2 separate regions of the Homo sapiens genome follow, and region 1 is linked to region 2. The links come from fine-mapping of genetic effects on gene expression. Tissue or cell type: blood mononuclear cells. Region 2 holds a variant in brackets; the other region holds the start of a gene. All regions are shown on one strand. Distances are between the middles of the regions.

Region 1 (2,604 bases), 110 kb after region 2:
GCTGGGATGAGAAACGCGGGGCTTTCCCTGGCAGTCTGGCCCTGTATGGAGGCCCCTTCCCAGAGTGCGTCCCACTGGCTTCCTCTTCTATCTTGCAGTCACACCTAGCTGCAAGGCGGGAAGATGTCACAGGTTTGAAAGGGCCGAAAAGAAGGTTCAGAAATGAAAACTATGACAAGGCGCTTGCCAGCATTAGCTGCAGAGTCGACAGAGACGAGGAGATAATGTGTGAAGTGGTAGAAAAATGAGAAGAGATTGTTCAGTGTGCAGGGCAGAGAGATGGCGAGATGGGAGCTGTGAGGAGAGCCGGGTGGCCGGGAGCCTCCCGGGGGCAGATCTGTGCTGAGGTTTTGCAGGGATCAGCTGGCTGTCTCCGCCCCTGCACGTCCCGGCTCCTTCTCAGCTCACCCTTTCTTGTTGTGCCATGACAGGTGGCTGCCACGCACAGCAATGCTGTTGAATCTCAGAAATTAAACAACCTGAAAAGGCGTGAGAAGCTGGGCACATGCATGAATTGTTTATGTAAAGCTCAGAAGCTGCACAGCTAAAGGGCTCGGTGAGGGAGGCATCATAGGTGTTGAAGCCTCAACGTTGTCTGTGCAGGCACGGCCAGGCTGGTGGCACCTCTGCCAGGAGGGCAGGGGGTGGGGGTGGGGCCGCGGGCTGAGATCGGGAGGGAACAGGCAGCCAGCTCTGGAGGCTGGCAGAGCGAGGTTTTGTTTCTTCCTATAGGACGTGGTGACTTAAGACTTTAGAATAATTTGTGAAGCTCTGCATTTATGTTTTAGGCATTTTATGTAAATATTTTATATTTCTCACTAGTAAAAAGTTTAAGAGAATACACCCACGGGACAATCTGCAATGATACACGTTCTATAAAGTTCTTCTCAGCTTTGTTTGTGTGAAAAGCATTAGTGCTGTTTGCAGAGAGAAGCTGAGTGAATAAGTTACATGATAGCCACAAGCTGGAAAAATACCAAGTGTTCAGCAAGGGATGAGTGTGGGCCACCGCTCCTGATGTGCACTAGAAAGAGAGGGCTGTGGATGATTCCTTGGTGCGATGTGTGAAAACACCCGGGCCTCTACACGCACGGGTCTGGGGAGGCCCCTGCGTGTCCACGGGCCCACGCCCACCACCACCACCACGGTGCTGCCACAGGGATGCTCTCTGGGGGGCGGGGTCATGGGAGATTGCATTGTATTGTATTTTTCCTTTCTGCTTCCCATTTCTCGGAGACAAATCTGGTTGCCATGGAGACCATGCTGTTGTCAAGGTGGCTGATTGGCCGGCGCGGGATGCGGGGACGTTTCCTTGGGCCCCCGGCGGGCGCAGCCCTCAGCCCACACTGCGGAGCCAGGCGGCAGCATGGACCGGGCTGGGGCAGACATGTGGGCCAGCACCTTCACCCTGGCCATGGCCGAGAGGAAGCCCCAGGACGTCTGGGTTCTGCTACCTGAGCACAGCCTGGTCCCGGGATGCCTGGACGGCGGTGGTGTCCAGTACCTGCTGGTGGGGCTCTCGAGGTGCGGCCAGAGGTTGGGGACCCTGGGAGAGGCAGGGGGCTGAAGGTGCTTTTCCACGGGACCTTGGGTGGTCCCAGAGGCTGGGTGGGGCTGTTGGGCCTCGTCTTGTCCCCGAGACGGGAGGGTGGGGCTGGGTGCTCCTTCTCCCGCCGGAGCCCCTGCCTCGCCATGCTGGGCACACGGCTGCTGACGCAGGGGTCCCGGGGAAGACATGGCGGGTGCCTCATGGAGAGTTTGGTTTCCCTCACTCGGCTCCTTGGGCCAGCGCTGCCCTTGGACACAGGCTCATCTCCTGCTTCCATGGCACTGCCGTGGTCTCGCAGCCATCAGTGCTGACAGGTGGGCCCTGGGGCGTGCCGGAGCCTGTGGTCACCATCCGGCCCTGTGTTGCACACAGCGGGGTGCTCGGCCCTGATCGGGGGCCCGGGGTGGCTGTGGGTCACAAGTGAGCCTCACAGGCCGTCATCACGGTTGTGGTGCCGTCAGCGCAGCAGGGCGGGCGCCATGCGCTTCTCCAACTGGCAAGGCATCCACAGCTCGGCCGGGTGCCAGCTGGGAGGGGCGCGGGGCAGCTCCACATCCTCGCAGATGCCCGGCCTGACAGGCCCCCAGGCTGCTGGCTGGTCCGTCCCTCTGTGGAGACACCCTGGGCAAAGGGGGAGTCGTCCTGCCCTTTGACACAGCTCCTCAGTGCCTGAGACCCCTGGGGCCAGGTGTGTGCAGAATCCCAGCTTTTTCAGAAGCTGGGAAAGTAATAACCCGTGTTGGGGTCTGAGAAGTGCTGGGAAGCACATCACTGTTCCCACAGCCAGGTGGAGATGGCTCTGAGCGGCTCCCAGCTGGCGGGAGAGAACTGAGGACGGCTGCCCCAACATGCAGCCCCAGCGCCCGTGGCTTTGGCTCCTCAGTCCCATTTAAATAAAGTCAGCAGTTCAGTTCCTCCAGCACGAACGTGTCCACGGGCTCTGTGGCCAGTGTGGTTGGAGGCTGCAGGCAGGGCAGTGTGGCTATAGAACATTCTGTCATCCAGAAACTTCCACTGCCTGGAACTGAATCATAGCCTCTCACTCATGCAGGGTT
Region 2 (2,611 bases):
TATATGCAAATCCTATGCCATTTCCTGTCAGAGACTCGAGCATCTCAGGATTTTGATATCCGAGGGGTCCTGTATCCAGTCCCCCAGGGACACTGAGGGGCACCTGCATGCTGTTCGGTGGTGTATTCTGGTTCTGCCTTGTTCAGTCACACATAACCCTGTCACCATGTCACCATCCTGATTCTGCGTAGCCAGTTTGCACACAGCTTCTGCTTGAATCTCAGCCTCCAGAATTTTCCCTGGCATGGAAAAATAGGTGACGGAACAGCTCAGATTTTCTTTGTCTGGAAATGTACTGATTTAGTTGATAAAAATGTCTTTTCCTCAGTGGATTTCCGTGGTTCTGGGTTGACAGTTGCTTCCCAGCAGCAGGAGGGAGTCTCTGTTCTCTCTTCTGATGTCTGCTGGTGCGGAGACAGCCTCAGTTCAGGGCAGTTCCCTTCGGGGGAATGGAGGGAACAGAGGGAAATAAATAATTTCTTTCTTTTTCTTTTCCTTTTTTTTTTTTTTTTTTTTGAGATGGAGTCCCGCTCTGTCACCCAGGCTGGAGTGCAGTGGTGCGATCTTGGCTCACTGCAACGTCCGCCTCCCGGGTTCAGGCGATTCTCCTGCCTCAGCCTCCCGAGCAGCTGGGATTACAGGCGTGTGCCACCACACCCGGCTAATTTTTGCATTTTTAGTAGAGATGGGGTTTCACCATATTGGCCAGGCTGGTCTCGAACTCCTGACCTCGTGATCCACCCGCCTCAGTCTCCCAAAGTGCTGAGATTGCAGGTGTGAGCCACCGCGCCCAGCCTGCTTTTTCCTTTTTGCTGCTTTCAGCTCCTTCCATTGTCTTTGGGGTTCTGCGGTTTCACTCTGGTTTGGCCGGGAGTCGGCCAGATGAGTGTTTGTTTACCTGCCTGTTGGCCGGGTGAGTGTTTACCTGCCTGGCACTTCTTGGGCTTTGGGGTCTTGCTGGCTTTAGAAATTCCTCAGCCACCAGAGCCTCTTCAAACACCGTTTCTCCCCTTCCTCTGTTCTCCTCTTGGAACTCAGTCCAAGCCCCCTTGTTTCTTATCGGCTGCTGCCAGGGTCCCGCCTCTCAGGTTTGGATGCTATTTGCAGTGTCTCCAGCTTGGCGTTCTCTGCCGTGTGTGATCGGCCGTCAGATCTGTCTGCTAAGGTCCACAGGCCAGCCATGATGCATTTCATCTCCGGAAGATTGGCGTGGATATTTAAAAATTGCTTGGTCAGATTTTTTGGTTTTATATTTTTGTCTCTTATTTCTTTACACATGACACGTTTGTGTTCTGTGTCTGGAAATGACAGCGTCTGAGGTGTTTGTGGGTCTGATTCTGACCTTAGCCGTGGT[G/A]GTTTGTCTTCTTGTGTGTGTGATTTTTGGCATGAGCTCATATTCGTTAGATTTTTATCTGTAGGAATTATTTGAGGCCTGCAGGGGAGGTGGTTTGCTTCTGCAGTGGGTGGGGAGGGTGAGGGCCTGGGGCCCCGCCCGGAACCTCTTTAATCTCCACATTCTCAGCCTTTGGGACCCGAGGCAGCGTGAGTTCCGGGTGCAGGCCGCCGTTGCTCGGGAATACAGTTGGGTGTTGCTGAATGATGGGGATGCGTCCTGAGAAATGTGTCATTAGGTGGTTTCGTTTTGTGTGAGCATCACGGAGGGCACTCACACCCAGATGGGACAGCCTCTTCCACACCAAGGCTGTGTGGTGTAGCCATTGCCCCTAGGTGACAAACCACAGCTGTCATCCACTTAATGCCGGAAGCAGTTGTGACATAATGCTGAGTATGTGCCTGAACACAAAAGCTAATCCTAGAAAAGGGACCGTAAAAGTATGGTATAAAAGGTAAAAATGCCACACCTGCCTGGGGTGCCCATCACGAGTGGGTCTCGCGGGACTGGAGGTTGCTCTGGCGAGGCAGTGGGTGAGCGTGAGGGGTTGCGAAGGCCTAGGAGATGACCGTACTCTACTCTAGACTTTATAAATGCTGCACACTGAGGCCACACTAAACTGATATTAACAAGTAATTGTGCTACAACATGGTGACATCGTCATTAAGGTGATGGCAGTTTTTCAGCTCCATTTTAATGTTATGGGGCCAGCATCATCTCTGTGGTCCGGGGTTGGGTGAAACGTTGTTATGAAGCGTGACTGTATTCACATACTTTGTGGACGCCAGGCACGTGGCTCACACCTGTAATCTCAGCGCTTTGGGAAGCTGAGGTGGGAGGACTGCTTGAGGTCAGGAGTTCAAGACCAGCCTGGGCAACATGGTGAGACCGGCCCCCCACCCCCGACCACCCGCCGTTTCTACAAAAAAAATAATCAGCCAGGCATGGTGGTACATGCCTGCAGTCCCAGCTACTCAGGAGGCAGAGGTGGGAGGACTGACTGAGCACAGGAGGTTGAAGTGTGAGCCACGATCACTCTACTGCCCTCCGGCCTGGGTGACAGAGGGAGACCCTGTCTCAAAAAAACAAAACCAAATGAACATATTCTGTGGATGTGGTTTTTCTTCTTTCACAACCAGTCCTTCCTGGGCAAGTCCCCGGGCAGGGGATGTGTTCAGCCCTCTCTGGCCTGAGCACGCATCCGTGGGGACTGTGGGA

What was found. PIP is the estimated chance that this variant, and not a neighbour inherited with it, causes the effect.
Region 1: it holds the start of RTP5, and the variant in region 2 is fine-mapped to the expression of RTP5 in blood mononuclear cells (TOPMed, PIP 0.97). The same link has a PIP of 0.9 or more in whole blood.

What each region holds. Positions count from the first base shown.
Region 1 is chr2:241,868,391-241,870,994 of GRCh38, forward strand. It overlaps RTP5 (receptor transporter protein 5 (putative)), which reads left to right and starts at 1,339. Exons shown (of 2, transcript NM_173821.3): 1 at 1,339-1,524. The coding sequence starts at 1,367.
Region 2 is chr2:241,761,574-241,764,184 of GRCh38, forward strand. The region is part of intron 9 of D2HGDH (D-2-hydroxyglutarate dehydrogenase); the gene reads left to right. Among named protein-coding and RNA genes, the nearest start is that of GAL3ST2, 14 kb to the right of the region's middle. The variant G/A (reference allele first, on the strand shown) is at 1,355.